2 separate regions of the Homo sapiens genome follow, and region 2 is linked to region 1. The links come from fine-mapping of genetic effects on gene expression. Tissue or cell type: whole blood. Region 1 holds a variant in brackets; the other region holds the start of a gene. All regions are shown on one strand. Distances are from middle to middle.

The links. PIP is the estimated chance that this variant, and not a neighbour inherited with it, causes the effect.
Region 2: it holds the start of L1TD1, and the variant in region 1 is fine-mapped to the expression of L1TD1 in whole blood (INTERVAL, PIP above 0.99).

Annotation. Positions count from the first base shown.
Region 1 is chr1:62,130,075-62,138,252 of GRCh38, forward strand. All of the region lies in intron 41 of PATJ (PATJ crumbs cell polarity complex component), which reads left to right. Among named protein-coding and RNA genes, the nearest start is that of MIR3116-2, 55 kb to the left of the region's middle. The variant A/T (reference allele first, on the strand shown) is at 4,819.
Region 2 is chr1:62,191,212-62,199,389 of GRCh38, forward strand. It overlaps L1TD1 (LINE1 type transposase domain containing 1), which reads left to right and starts at 3,638. Exons shown (of 4, transcript NM_019079.5): 1 at 3,638-3,710; 2 at 5,224-5,317. RefSeq lists enhancers at 2,781-3,637, 3,638-4,493.

The sequences.
Region 1 (8,178 bases):
CTATAGTCCCAGCACTTTGGGAGGCTGAAGCAGGAGGATCACTTGAGGCCAGCAGTACAAGACCAGCCTAGGCCATAGCAAGATCCCGTCTCTACAAAAAAGTTAAAAAGTTAGCCCGGCATGGTGGTGTGTGCCTGTAGTCTTAGCTACTCAAGAGACTGAAGCAGGAGGATGGCTTGAGCCCAAGAGTTGGAGGCTACAGTGAGCCAGTATTGTGCCACTGCATTCCTGCCTGGGCAGCAGAGTGAGACCCTGGCTCAAAATAAATAAAAATCATATAGGAAGTTCAAATTGAAAAACCATTACATAGCTGGGCATAGTGGCTCACGCCTATAATCCCAACACTCTGGGAGGCCAAGGCAGGAGAATTGCTTGAGCCCAGGAGTTTTGAGACCAGCCTGGGCAACATGGTATGATACCCCATCTCTACAAAAAAAATAAAAATAAAAATTTAATTTTAATAATAAAAAATAAAAATTAGAAAAAAAGAAAAACTGCTGGGCACGGTGGCTCACACCTGTAATCCCAGCACTTTGGGAGGCTGAGGCGGGCGGATCACGAGGTCAAGAGATTGAGACCATCCTGGCTAACATGGTGAAACCCCATCTCTACTAAAAATACAAAAAATTAGCCGGGCATGGTGGCGGGCGCCTATAGTCCCAGCTACTGGGGAGGCTGAGGCAGGAGAATGGCGTGAACCTGGGAGGCAGAGCTTGCAGTGAGACGAGATGGCACCACTGCACTCCATCCTGGGCGACAGAGCAAGACTCCGTCTCAAAAGAAAAAAAGAAAAACCATTACATTTGGGAGAAGCAATTTGTGGTGTTTTACATCTCTGTGGTGTAAGTCCAAAGTGTCCAGACATTTAAAAAGTAAGTGGCTTTCAGTATGTATGAGGGGTATAATGAAAATCCTGTCAGTTTACTATCACACTAGTCTTTAAGTTAAAATTTTAAAAGAAAGAAAAGAAAATCCTGTCATTAATTTCAAGGGAGTTTATGTGATAGGCCAAATATTATTAAATTATTTGGGTCCCTGATTTTCTATTGAACACAAACCAAAACACTGTGCGGACTGGGCATAGAATCTGCTTCCCCTCAACTCCTGGTCCTCACTTTCAGTGGAAACCTACACAGTTAACTGCATTGCTTCCTCCACCCTACAAATCCTTTGCTTTCTGAAATGGGTGGCTGTGCTTGCTCATCCTTCACGTTATGCTGACCCCTAGAGGCAGTACAGTGCAGCTCTTCAGTGCTGAGCCCAGGACCTTGAATTACAAAGACCTTAGGAGGATCCTACTTCAAATGGTAACTGACCAGAAAAAAGTCTCTCTCCCTTAGCAAAATCTAGTATTATTGATATTTTCACACATGGATATAATTTGTTCAGCTCTGTCTTCCTCACAAATAAATAAGAAGACACAATTAGCCAGGTGTGGTAGCGCATGCCTGTAATCCCAGCTACTCAGGAGGCTAAGGCAGGAGAATTGCTTGAACTCAGGAGGCGGAGGTTGCAATGAGCCAAGATCACCCCATTGCACCCCAGCATGGGCTACAAGAGTCAGACTCCGTCTCAAAAAAAAAAGGCACATAGAAACTAGCTGCTCGGAGGATGAGGCAGGAAGATCACTTGAGCCCAAGAGTTTGAGGCTGCAGTGAGCTATGATTATAGCACTGCACTCAGCTTGGGTGACAGAGTGAGATCCCAGCTCTAAATAAGTAAATAATAACATTATTTAACTATAATGTCATAATAATAAAAACCAATATAACCAAATATTAGGATGAATGAATTATTATTTTTTTTTTTTTGAGATGGAGTCTCGCTCTGTTGTCTAGGCTGGAGTGCACTGCAACCTCCCCCTCCCGGGTTCAAGCAAGTCTCCTGCCTCAGCCTCCCAAGTAGCTGGGACTACAAGCATGCACCACCATACCTGGCTAATTTTATATTTTCAGTAGAGATGGGATTTCACCATGTTGGCCAGGCTGGTCTCAAACTCCTGACCTCAAGTGATCTGCCCGCCTTGGCCTCCCAAAGTTCTGGGAGTACAGGCATGAGCCACCACGCCCAGCTGAATGAATTATTAGTAGCATGGGGATTTGTGGTGTTTTGGTAGAAGGAAAATGTGAGTTAAATCTTTATCTTCCACAATAAGAAGTGATTAGATATCAAAAATTTTAAAATCAAGAAATAGAAGTAAAACTGTTATTTAAGAATATGGAAGCACAGCCTGGCCAACATAGAGAAACCTTGTCTCTACTAAAAATACAAAAAAGTAGCCGGATTGGCGGTGCACCTCTGTAATCCTGGCTGCTCAGGAGGCTGAGGCGGGAGAATCGCTTGAACCCCAGGGGCAGAGGTTGTAGTGAGCCAAGATCTCGCCACTGCATTCTGGCCTGGGCAACGTGAATATGGAAGCAAATACTAGGAGAAACAGCTGAAAGTAGTTGCTTTTAGGGAGTAAGAATCTGTAATGGGGGTAAAGGAGCAAGGACTCTTTCATTAAATACTATAGAATCATTTTGACTTTTTAAATTATATAAATGGGCCGGGTGCAGTGGTTCACACCTATAATCCCAGCAATTTGGGAGGTCGAGGCTGGCAGATCGCTTGAGCCCAGAAGTTTGAGACCAGCTTGGGCAACATGGTGAGACCCCGTCTCTACAAAAAAATACAAAAATTAGTCGTGCATAGTGGCATGCACTTGTAGTCCCAGCTACTGGCGAGGCTGGGGTGGGAGGATTGCTTGAGCCCGGGGGGCAGAGGTTGCAGTGAGCCAAGATCGTGCCACTGCACTCCGGCCTGGATGACAGTGAGACCCTGTCTCAAAATTAAAAAAAAAAAATTACATAAGTAAGTGAATAGGTGTGATTTTTTTTTAATTGAGGTAAAAAGTTGTTGGAAAGTATTAGAACTACAGAGGATTGAGTAGATTTTTAAAACACAGGAAACAAGTAGAACTTAGAAATGATGTAACAGTTAAGTGGAAGAGTTTGGCGAGCTAAATTTTCATCTCTTAGAGTAGGGAGTCAGTGGACACCAAGATAGTACATTTCAAAATAGGCATATAAGAATATTATTTAGCTTATTCTTTAGAATTAAAAAGAGAAAAGTTCAATGTGCTTCTAGGGAGGGCAAGTGTTGAATTTTTTTTATCATGTACTGTACTATTTCATTTTTTATTATGTACACACAAAAAAGAAATATTTAGAAAAAATAGAATATGGCCAGGCGTGGTGGCTCATACCTGTAATCCCAGCATTTTGGGAGGCCAAGGCAGGTGGATCACCTGAGGTCAGGAGTTTGAGACCAGCCTGGCCAACATGGTGAAATCCCATCTCTACTGAAAATACAAAAATTAGCCGGGTGTGTTGGCACATGCCTGTAGTCCCAGCTACTTGGGAGGCTGAGGCAGGAGAACAGCTTGAACCCGGAGAGTAGAGGTTGCAGTAGCCGAGATTGCACCACTGCTGTCCAGCCTAGTCGAGAGTGAGACACCGTCTCGAGAAAAAAGAATAGAAAAGAACCAAGAATATAGGTCTGTTTGAAAAGCAGCTAAACAGATTTGAGTAGAATGGTGCTTCTCAAACTTTAGCACGCTCTGGAAACACCTGGAGGGCTCCCCCAGCCTTTCTGATTTTGCAGGAGTGGAGTGGGATTCAAGAATTTGCTTTTTTTTTTTTTTTTTTTGAGACAGAGTTGCGCTCTGAAGCCCAGGCTGGAGTGCAGTGGCACAATCTCGGCTCCACTGAGCCTCCACCTCCTGGGTTCAAGCAATTCTCCTGCATCAGCCTCCCCAGTAGCTGGGACCACAGGCACCCACCACCATGCCCGGCTAATTTTTGTATTTTAGTAGAGACAGGGTTTCACCATGTTGGCCAGGCTGGTCTCAAACTCCTGACCTCAGGTGATCCGCCTGCCTTGGCCTCCCACAGTGCTGAGATTACAGGTGTGAGCCACCGTGCCCAGCCAATTTTGCATTTCTTCTAACAAGCTCCTAGGTATTGGTGATGCTGCTAATTCAGATCCCATGCCTCAGACCCAGTGGAGTAGAGCATTATTTAGGGATGAAAAAGGTCTCCCCACGTTATTCTCTTCATCTGAAACACCCTTCTCACCGTACTCTCGTCTTTTTTTTTTTTTTTTTTTAAGAGAGAGACAAGGTCTCATTATTGGCCTGCACTCAAGAGACTGTCCCACCTCAGCCTCCCAAAGTGCTGGGATTACAGGTGTGAGCCATCGCACCCAGCCCTCTCTTTTTTTTTTTTTTTTTTTCTTTTTACTTTTTGAGACTGAGTTTTGCTCTTGTTGCCCAGGCTGGAGTGCAATGGCGTGATCCTGGCTCGCTGCAACTTCCATCTCCCAGGTTCAAGCGATTCTCCTGCCTCAGCCTCCCGAGTAGCTGGGATTACAGGCATGTGCCACCACGCCCAGCTAATTTTGTATTTTTAGTAGAGACGGGGTTTCACCATGTTGGTCAGCCTGGTCTCAAACTCCTGACCTTAGGTGATCCGCCCGCCTCAGCCTCCCAAAGTGCTGGGATTACTGGTGTGAGCCACCACGCCCGGCCTCTTTTCTTTATAAATATTGGAAAATCCTTTGTTTAGAAACTCTCCATCGAAGAATAGGGAGTGCCTGGGTGTTGATGTCCTTCCAGACCATGGTTCTCCAAAGCTGGAGAAATCTGTGTCTGTGCCTCGGGCGCAGGCCTCGCCCAGAGCAGATACCTCCTCAGTGCTGCCCACATGGAGTTGCTGAGCCATTCCAATCAAGCTGAAGGACATGAACTAATAGGGGAACAAATCAGCACAGTTACCA[A/T]TGTAGTCCAGAAAAATTCCAGGAGGGGAGGAAGACGGATGGCTTACCCAGGGTTGGAAATGGAAAAGGTGTGTCATTGAGGGTGCAGAGCAGGCGCGTCATGGCCTATGTGAGTATCACTAAAGGAATGATCTGCTATTAGGTCTTTACCTTAGTTGCATAATAAAATCACTGATTTTAATACCTGTTCCTGGGCCCCACCCCAGAGGTTCAGATTTAATTTTTCTGGGATATGGCATGGACATCAGATGATTTTAAAATTTCTCAGGTGATTCTAATATGCAGCCAGGGGTAAGAAAAGTAGTCTCCAGGGTTTGCAAATAAAAAGCCAACTAATGCTTAGGCCAGGTGTGGTGGCTCACGCCTGTAATCCCAGCACTTTGGGAGGCCGAGGTGGGGGGGATCGCTTCAGGTCAGGAGTTCAAGACCAGCCTGGCCAACGTGGTGAAACCCCCTCTACTAAAAATACAAAAATAAGCCAGGCATGGTAATGCATACCTGTAATCCCAGCTACTCAGGAGGCTGAGGCAGGAGAATTGCTTGAACTCGGGAGGCAGAGGTTGCAATGAGATGAGATCGCGCCACTGCACTCCATCCTGGGTGACAGAGCGAGACTCCGTCTCAAAAAAAAAAAAAAAAAAAAAAAGCCAAATTAATGCCATGAAGACAGTGATAAACTGCAGGAAAAGGACAAAGACCCAAGGTTTGAAAGTTGAAATGAACACCTAGCCCAAGTTAGGTAGGAGAGGTAGGCTGTAGTGTCAGAAAGTCGTGAGTTTGAATCCTTTTACTAAAGTCTCACCTTCTATTCCTCTAAAACAGGGACTGTGGAGCTCCTTTCTTAAAAAGGTTGCTCTGAGGATTAGATGAAGTGTGATGTAAAGTGTCTAATAAATACAGGATGTTGCAAATGATAAATACTAAGTGGTATCTTATTACTTTCATTGTACTAACATAGGCTTGAAGTTAGAGGATACTAAAATTCCTTTATAAAATCCTGGAAGTGGAGTGGTTTTCCAGGTGGCATTTGAGGTGTGTGCCACTAGGTGGCAATGTGGCTGGAAGTCAGTTTGCCCTTTTCGAATTTTACTCCAAGTGCTTCACACTTCTTCAGACCATTAGATTTTTTTTTTTTTTTTTTTTTTTTTTTTTGAGACAGAGTTTCGCTCTTGTTACCCAGACTGGAATGCAATGGTGCAATCTCAGCTCACTGCAACCTCTGCCTCCTGGGTTTAAGCAATTCTCCTGCCTCAGCCTCCTGAGTAGCTGAGCTGGGATTACAGGCTCACACCGCCACGCCCGGCTAATTTTGTGTTTTTTGTAGAGATGGGGTTTCTCCATGTTGGTCAGGCTGGTTTTGAACTCCTGACCTCAAGTGATCCGCCCATCTCGGCCTCCCAAAGTGCTGGGATTACAGGTGTGAGCCGCCACGCCCAGCCCGATCATTAAATTTTTAACAGACACATAAAAATCAATATATTCTGGTGTCACTAAAATCAGGGTCACTAGATTCTGGACAAAAACTTTAAGCAGCTGTGCTTTCTATTTCAGTAAGTTACACCAAAGGCCAGGCATGGGCTTTTCTTGTGTGTGTGTGTGTGTGTGTGTGTTTTTCTGTAATGTGTCCCCATCTTAAGATGCCAGCTTTCTCAGGGATCACCTTAACTTTACAGCCTTCCTGTTTGTTTTCAACATGTGTGCACCCATAGTTTGAGGGTCCAGCTGCATGTAAGTGCTGAGGATTTTTATGTTTTGCGTGTGTGTGTGTGTGTCTGTGTGTGTGTGTGTGTGTGTGTGTGTCTGTGTGTGTGTGTGGTGTGTTGTTTTTTTGAGACAGGGTCTCACTCTGTCCCCCAGGCTGGAGTGCAGTGGCACAATCATGGCTCACAGCAGCCTTGATCTGCCAGGCTCAAGCAATCCTCCAACCTCAGCCTCCCAAAGTGCTGGGATTACAGGCATGAGCCGCCACACCCAGCCAGTGCTAAATTTCAGATTTGGTACTGAAAGGCTTGGGTCCTAATAAGTCTAAGGGCTAATCATCTTCTTTCGCAGGAACCTTTAGGAGAGTTCTAAGCAAGGAGCTCAAGCTTTTATGCATTGTAATATCTTTCTTATCTGGAAATTATTTTGACTTCTCAATTCTCCAAAACATAATACCTAAACCTGTTTTTAAAGAAAGATACTCAACCTAGGTCCATGCAGTAAAGACCTCTACTTTATTACTCATTTCGAAAGCTTAATAAATACACAATATTTCACTGTAGAACATATAGTTCTAATTAAGTTTAATGTTCCTTTTACCCTAAGTTATTAAATGCAACATGGAGGCAAAGCACAAGAGAGTACATGAAAATAAATATCTTCTTAAAGGAAAACAGTGGGGAAGGTGGCACAAATTAAGGAAATTCACATCAGAGGGAGAACCCTGTTGGAGAAACAGTGAGGGGGAAACCCATTGGCAGAAGGAAACATGGAATAAGTGAGTTTCGTCGGAGGGGGGAACATAGAATGAGGGGGAACAGCAGCCTGAGGGGTAAATGCCTCTGGAGGGGGGAACACAGAGTGAGGGGGCACAGCAGCCTGAGGGGGAAATGCCTCTGGAGGGGGGAACACAGAGTGAGGGGGCACAGCAGTCTGAGGGGGAAATGCCTCTGGAGGGGGGAACACAGAGTGAGGGGGGACAGAGGCCTGAGGGGGAAATGCCTCCGGAGGGGGGGACACAGAGTGAGGGGGGACAGAGGCCTGAGGGGGAAATACCTCTGGAGGGGGGAACACAGAATGAGGGGGGATAGCAGTTTGTGGGGGGAACACAGATTGAGAGGGAAGCAGGCTTGTCTGTTCTTCCACAGATGCAAACGTCTCTAACTGTTCCGTAGGCGCAGAGGACAAGGCTGCAGCCTCCCCGTCCTCTGGTGGGAGGATTTCTTCCTGCTTTTTCTTCAGGCCAGTGGCCTCCCTCACCTCAGGTGGGGGGATCTCCTCCTTCTCTTCCTTCAGGTCCATAGTCTCCTCCTCAGGTGGGGGGATTTTCTCCACCTCTTCCTTCAGGTTCACAGTCTCCTCTTCCTCGGATGAGGAGATTTTCTCCACCTCTTTCTTCAGGTCTGTGGCCTCCCCCTCTTTGGGTTGGGAGAGTTCCTTCTCTTCCTTCAGACCAGGGGTCTCCTCCACCTCAGGTCGGCAATTACTAAATATTTGATCATAAGAGTTGGGGAGGATGAGGGGAAACCAAGTAGTTCATTAAATGCCTAGTGAGACTTTAAGTAAACACAACCATTTGGCGACTTAGGAAGTTCTAGTAACTTTAATGGTGATGCAATACCCATCACCAGCAATTCCAGATCTAGTTACCTGCCCTTA
Region 2 (8,178 bases), 61 kb after region 1:
AATATAATAAGGATGGGGCACAGCACCTCTTTCATAATTTTTTTTTTTTTTGAGATGGAGTCTTGCTCTGTCGCCCAGGCTGGAGTGCAGTGGTGCAATCTTGGCTCTTACGGGTTCTATGCCATTCTCCTGCCTCGGCTTCCTGAGTAGCTGGGACTACAGGGGCCAGCCACCAAGCCTGGCTAATTTTTTTATATTTTTAGTAGAGACGGGGTTTCACCGTGTTAACCAGGATGTTCTCGATCTTCTGAGCTCGTGATCTGCCCGCCTCCGCCTCCCAAAGTGCTGGGATTACAGGCGTGAGCCACCGCACCCCGCCCATAATGTTTAACCTTGCCTTTTACTTAAAAGAATTCCGGGAACTGGCTTTAGGAAATCTAAATATTAAACTAAGGTTGTGGAGTGTCCCACCTCAGGAAGAAATGCTGAACAATTGATTTACAGCCTTGTTGCTGTTCGCCAGACCACCAGGTGGGTGATCCATTACTCAATAAAGCCATCAAAACCAGATAAGGCTGACCCGCATACTCTACCCCTCATGTGCTTTGCCCAGCCCAACCTGCATACTCTACCCCTGATTGTCTAATAAAGCAGAGTTAGTCAGGTAGTCCTCTCCGTTATGTCTGTGCATAAGCTCTAACAAGCCTTGTATGGGAACACTCCTTCAGCCTCATGTCAATTTCTATTGCACTGAGAGCCCAAGAACACGTGATCTTAAGTAACAGAAGGCTTTAACCTTTAAAAAATCTAATCACAGTAATCTTATTACACTGAAATTAACAGTTATTCTTTTTCTTTTTCGAGACGGAGTCTCGCTCTGTCGCCCACGCCGGAGTGCAGTGTCATGATCTCGGCTCACTGCAAGCCCCACCTCCCGGGATCACGCCATTCTCCTGCCTCAGCCTCCGGAGTAGCTGGGACTACAGGCGCCGGCCACCACGCCCGGCTAATTTTTTTGTATTTTTTAGTAGAGACGGGGTTTCACCGTTTTAGCCAGGATGGTCTCGATCTCCTGACCTCGTGATCCGCCCCGCCTCGGCCTCCCAAAGTGCTGGGATTACAGGCGTGAGCCACCGCGCCCAGCCCAACAGTTATTCTTAATATCATCAAATATCCAGTCAGTGTTCAAATTTTCGTTTTTTTTGTTTGTTTGAGACAGGGTCTTGCTCTGTCACCCAGGCTGGAGTGCAGTGGCACGATCTCAGCTCACTGCAACCTCCGTTTCCCAGGTTCAAGCGATTCGCCTGCCTCAACCTCCTGAGTAGCTGGGATTACAGGCACACACCACAACGCCTGGCTAATATTTGTACTTTTATAAGAGATGGGGTTTCACCATATTGGCCAGGCTTACCTCAGGTCTTAAACTCCTGACCTCAGGTGATCCACCTGCCTTGGACTCCCAAAGTGCTGGGATTACAGGCTTGAGCCACCTTGCCCAGTTTTTTTTTTTTTTTTTTTTAGACAAGGTCTTGCTCTGTCACCCAGGCTGGAGTGTAGTGGTGTGATTGTAACTGCCCAATGGGTTCACCTTGCCCACTGCCTACACAGAGCCCATTTATCAAGACAGGGGAATTGCAATAGAGAAAGAGTAATTCACACAGAGTGGGCTGTGTGGGAGACCAGAGTTTTATTACTCAAATCAATCTCCCCAAGCATTCAGGGATCAGAGTTTTTAAGGACAACTTGGTGGGAGGGGGGAAGCCAGTGAGCTGGGAGTGCTGATTGGTCAGATCAGAGATGAAATCATAGGGAGTCAAAGCTGTCTTCTTGCGCTGAATCAATTCCTGGGTGGGGGCCACCAAGATCATATCAGCCAGTTTATTGATCTGGGTGGTACCAGCTGATCCGTCAAGTGCAGGATCTGCAAAATATCTGTGGAATATCTCCCTGGTCTTAGGTTTTGCAGTAGTGGTCTTATCCCCAGAAGCCATTTGGGGAGAGTCAGAGTCTTGTAGCCTCCAGCTGCATGACTCCTAAACCATAATTTCTAATCCTGTGGCTAATTTGTTAGTACTGCAAAGGCAGTCTAAATCCCCAGGGTTTGTTTCGGGAAAGGGCTGTTATCATCTTTGTTTTAAACTATGAACAAGTGATCCTCCCACCTCAGCCTCCCAAAGTGCTGGGATTTTAGGCAGTAAGAAGAAATAAGGGATTAAAAGCAAAAGACCGAATTCTCTTTGTTTATTCATATGCTGTGTATTGACTGAACTACCAGATATTGAGGCTTCTTTGCTTATTAGCTGCATGACTTTGGGCAAGTCAAGTTCCACCTGAGCCTTGCAAGTCAGGCCTGGGGAGTCCAACCACCCAGAACCTTTGAGTCTCTGTTAGAGAGCAAGACCCTCTCTTAAGAAACAAAAATAAAACAAAAAAAGAGTATTGGGATATGGGGAGTTTGGCTCCTGTAGAAAGGGTAGTCTGGGAGGCCTGTTAGAGGAGTTAACATTGGACCTGAGACCTGAGGATGAACAGAAGCCATCCTGAAAGAACTGGGAAAATAAAGAGGTGGCCAGGCGTGGTGGCGCACGCCTGTAATCCCATCACTTTGGGAAGCTGAGGTGGGCGGATCACCAGGTCAGAAGTTCAAGACCAGCCTGACCAACATGGTGAAACCCCCCTCTACTAAAAATACAAAAACTAGCCAGGCGTGGTGGCATGGGCCTGTAATCTCAGCTACTCAGGAGGCTGAGGCAGGAGAAATCGCTTGAATCCAGGAGGCAGAGGTTGCAGTGAGCCGAGATTGCGCCACTGCACTCCAGCCTGGGTGACATAAGAAAACTCTGTCTCAAAAAGAAAAAAAAAAAATACAAAAATTTTCCGGGAGTGGTGGCGTGCTCCTGTAATCCCAGCTACTTGGGAGGCTAAGGCAGGAGAATTGCTTGAACCCAGGAGGCCGGGGTTGCAGTGAGCCAAGATCATGCCACTGCACTCCAGCTGTGGCAACAGAGACTGTCTCAAAAAAAAAAAAAAAGAAAGAAAGAAAGAAAGAAAAAGAAAAAAATAACTCGCAGAGGAAACAGCCAGTGCAAGGGCCCTGAGGCAGGTAGTTCCGTGTTTTTTGAGGAACAGAAAGAGAGTGTTTCTGTTGTAAGAGTAGTGCTAAGACAATGTTGAAGGGGCAGTCCGGATAGAATGAGAAGGTAGAAATTTAACCGAAACAGGAAGCCACTGAACAGTATTGGAGGGGGAGAAGGATTACAGAGGGGTCGTGGGAGAGGCCAGGGAGCAGTTGGAGGTGATTTCAGTGATCCAGGTGAGAGACAACGGGGGCTTGGACTGGGCTGGAGCTGTGGAGTTGGAGAGACGCCGGCAAATTCAAGGACTTAGGAATGGATTAACTGCGAGGGTTGAAGAAAAGGAATGAGGTGACCTTGGGGTTCAGGCCTGGGTGATGAGGCGCTTTAGTGGTGCCTTTATTCAGATTTGAGTCTGGAGTCGGGTCTGAGGGGTGGGGCTCGTTCAAGCGGAGGCACGGTGGAGACAGAGGGAATTGGACTCAGTCGGGGGGCAGCAATGGAAGTCAGCAATTGCTTAGGGCGGAATGCGATTTCCGGGGAGGAGGCGCGGGTATGTAGACAGAGGGGGTTGGGACACACCAGGAGGGGAGGAGCCAGCCCCAGAGATCGGGAATCCTCTCAGTCCTTAGTTACAAGGCTCCATCCTCACTTTGTTCGCTCCTCAGTCGTCCAGGCGGATTCCTTTTTCGCCAGGTAAGGCTGGCCCGGGTGCATGGGGCCCGGCGTGCCCTGGGTAAGGCTGGCCCAGGCGCGTGGGGTCCGGGGCGCGCCGGGTAAGGCTGGGCCAGGCGCGTGGGGTCCGGGGTGCCCCGGGTAAGGCTGGTCCAGGGGCGTGGGGTCCGGGGTGCCCCGGGTAAGGCTGGTCTAGGCGCGTGGGGTCCGCAGCGCCCCAAGTAAGGCTGGTCCAGGAGCGTGAGGTCCAGGGTGCCCCGGATAAGGCTGGTCCAGGCGCGAAGGGCGCGGGGTGCCCCGGGTAAGGCTGGCCCAGGTACGTGAGGCCCGAGGTGCCCCAGGCAAGGCTGATCCGGGTGCGTGCGTGGGGCCCGGGTAGGGGCAGGCAGTTGGCCCCCTCACTTGACTCCCTGCTCTTTCCCTTACTGTCCGTGGCGCAATGAGAAAAAAACTCTCCTAAGACTTATCTATCCCCAAATTGGAAACATGAAAGTAGTTCTGTGAAGAAAAAATAAAGTCAAGAAAATGAGGTGGTGCTTGACAAGTCCTAGCTTTAGAAAAAGGATGGAGGGGCCGGGAGCAGTGGCTCACGCCTGTAATCCCAGCACTTTGGGAAGCCGAGGCGGGCGGATCACCTGAGGTCGGAGTTCGAGACCATCCTGACCAACATGGAGAAACCTCGTCTCTACTAAAAATACAAAATTAGCCAGGCGTGGTGGCGCATGCCTGTAATCCTAGCTACTCAGGAGGCTGAGGCAGGAGAATCGCTTGAACCCGAGAGGCAGAGGTTGCACTGAGACGAGATCGCGCCATTGCGCTCCAGACTGGGCAACAGGGGCGAAACTGTCTCAAATAAAAAAAGATGGAGGGCCGGGCGTGTTATTTTCCAGCACTTTGGGAGGCCGAGGCGGGGGCGGATCACGAGGTCAGGAGATCGAGACCATCCTGGCCAACTTGGGAAACCCCGTCTCTACCAAAAATACAAAATTAGCCGGGTGTGTTGGCTCGCGCCTGTAGTCCCAGCTACTAGGGAGGCCGAGGCAGGAGAATCGCTTGAACCGGGGAGGCGGAGGTTGCAGTGAGCCGAGATCGGGCCACTACACTCCAGCCTGGGCGGCAGAGCGAAACTCCGTCTCAAAAAAAAAAAAAAGTGTTTAATTATGTGACTGGAAAAATTGATTTGGAAGTAATAACTTTTGCATTTTCTTCAATTTCCTCCGATTGTTAGGCAAATCGAATTCTTGTTCAAATTGCAAAAGGAAAGCGTGCCTTCCATAATAATAGACCCCAACTCTCACAAAGAAGAAACCATTCTCTCCGGCCCCTCCCTGGCCTCCTCAGATCCACCTCTGGGTCCTCCCATTCCCTGCAGCCCTCTCCCGACTTACACCCCAGACTCTGCTAATTGTGTGTGCCTTTTTAAGCAAACACATGCATAGATAAGTGCTTTTTTTTCCCAGTCTTCAATATAAGGTGATTTTCTACATTAAATAAACCTTAAACTTTGGTGTTATGAACTTGACTTGAATTCTAGGCACCAAGGCACAGCTTAGAGTAGACCCGAGTCCTGCTCTGCGGAGTTCGTCTTCCCAGCGAAGGTACAGAGGCGGATGAACTGCTGAGACTTGGTAAGTAGTTTAGTGGATTAGGGGTAGGATTAGTGGCGGGTAAGTGTGCGGGTGGGGTTGGGGTGGGGTATTTCATTTTTTGAGACGGAGTTTCGCTCTTGTCGCCCAGGCTGGAGTGCAATGGTGCCATCTCCGCTCACTGCAACCTACGCCTCCTGGGTTCAAGCGATTCTACTCCCTCAGCCTCCCAAGTAGCTGGGATTACAGGCGCCTGCCATTATACCCGGCTAATTTTTGTATTTTTAGTAGAGACGGGGTTTTGCCATTCGGCCAGGGTGGTCTCGAGCTCCTGACCTCAGGTGATCCTTCCACCTCCATCTCCTAAAGTGATGGGATTACAGGCGTGAGTCACTGCGCCTGGACTGGGGAGGGGTATTTTAGAGTGAAACAAGGGAAATGACCTTGGGTCTGATAAAGAAATGAGCCCTACTTATAATCTAGTGTGGGTCAGGACCCTTTTGCAGTCTGGTGCTATTAGCAGAACCCACAGTTCGTCATCGCTAGAAACCACATTTTGTTTCACATAACAGTTGTTGCAGGTTTTGCATTCTCACTACTTCAAGATTAAAAGGTAGGGCCAGGTGTGGTGGCTCACACCTGTAATCCCAGCACTTTGGGAGGTTGAGGAGGCCAGATCACTTAAGGTCAGCAGTTCGAGACCAGTCTGGCCAACATGGCGAAACCCCATCTCTACTAAAAAGTACCAAAATTAGCTGGGCATGGTGGCACGCTCCTGTAGTCCCAGCTACGTGGGAGGCTGAGGCAGGAGAATCGCTTGAACCTGGGAGGTGGAGGTTGCAGTGAGCCGAGATCCTGCCATTTCACTCCAGCCTGGGCAAGAGTGAGACGCCCTCTCAAAAAAAATAAATTATATATATATATATATATATATATATATATATATAGTTTAGTCCTGCTACTCAATCTTGTTTAGTAGTAGGTTAAGAAGCTCATATATTCCAAATTTTTTATTATCTAAAAAAGTTTTTTAGAGATGGTTTTGCTATGTTGCACAGGCTGGTCTCAAATTCCTGGCCTCAAGTGCTCCTGCTGCCCCGAAAGGTGCTGGGATTACAGGCTTGAGCCACCGCACCCAGCCCAGCACTTTGGGAGGCCGAGGTGGGCGGATCACCTGAGGTCTGGAGCTGGAGACCAGCCTGGCCAACATGGTGAAGCCCCATCCCTAAAAATACAAAAATTAGCTGGGTGCAGTGGTGCACGCTTGTAGTCCCAGCTACTCGGGAGGCTGAGGCAGGAGAATCACTTGAACCTGGGAAGCGGGGGTTGCAGTGAGCTGAGATTGTGCCACCTGCACTTCAGCCTGGGCGACAGTGAGACTCTGTCTCAAAAACAGAAGAAAACAAAACAAAACAAAACAAAACCCTGTAAATTACTTGAATGCCCACTGCTGAGGGAATTACTTATTGAACCAAAATATGTTCAAAATATGGCATGTCACACATAGAAGAGTGAGGTGTGCATATATAACTGGAAGATTACAAATGGCCTATTGAAAAAAAGAAAATAGTGTTAAAAGTATAAAGCTATTAAAAAAAAGTAAATGTCCCCATACCCAAGGAGAGAGACGTACTAACTAGAAGTCGAAGTTGGCATTCTCCTTTATTGTCCTCCCATGCACCCATAAAAACCAGGCACTTTATCTTGGTATGGTAGCATGCCTGTAATACCAGCTCCTCAGGAGACTGAGGTGAGAGGATCACTTGGTCCCTGGAGTTTGTGACCAGCGAACAGTGATCACACCACTGCTTGCCACGCTGGGCGAGAGTGAGATCTCAAAAAAAAAAGCAAAAACACAAAAGTCACCTGTACGTTGTGAGAGATACCACACCAAACTTTGGGTGGCCTCAGAGGTCAGATAATAGAGACTGAGGTGAGGGACTAGTAATTGTTCTTATTTAAAAAAAAAAAAAAGAAGAAAAGAGAAGTCCATAATCCCCCCAGCAAATTCAGAAAAACACACACACCGACCCCCCGCCGCCGCCCCACCCCGCCGATAAGAACAGGCTGCCAGTGTTGAAAAGGTAATACACCACAAAGGAAATGCAAGCAGATAAACATATGAAAAGATGGCAGTCACAAGCCAAGGCAATGCAAATCAACAAGCTTTTTTCCATCCCTAAAATTAAAGGAAGTTTATCCGCCCTCCCAACCCCCAGTCCCTTGAGGGAAGTGCTAAACATTTCTTGCCCTTTCCAACCGGTGCTCTCCTGTATTGTATACTTTTAAAGTAACCTCCTTAAAATACAAAGCAGAACTTGGGAGTACACTGGTGAAAATCTCCGGTCTCCCTAATCACTTTTTTTTTTTTGGCAGGGTCTTGCTCTGTCACCCAGGCTGGAATGCAGTGATGCAATCATAGCTTAGAGTAACCTTGAACTCCTGGGCTCAAATAATCTGACCGCCTCAGCCTCCCAAGTAGCTGGGACTGCAGGCAGAAGCCAGGACGTCTGGTCCCTGAGCCCTTTTGATGGCTACCATCCAACCCTGAGACAAAATTTGCTAAACTTGTACCAGCCTCTGCTTTCTTCTTGATCAGGGATTTTGAACCCAGAGTGCCTGGGTAGTGTCTGGCTAGAATTCAGAGTATCTGATATCTTGGATGTGAAAAAGGTCACATATATTTATTGTCATTAAACGCTAATCATAATTTAGCATTTAGCATTTGAGGCTGGGAGCAGTGGCTCATGTTTGTAATCTCAGCACTTTGGGAGGCTGAGGCAGGTGGATCACCTGAGGTCAGGAGTTTGAAACCAGCCTGGCCAACATGGTGAAACCCCGTCTCTACTAAAAATACAAAAATTAGCCGGGCATGGTGGCGTGTGCCTGTTGTCCCAGCAACT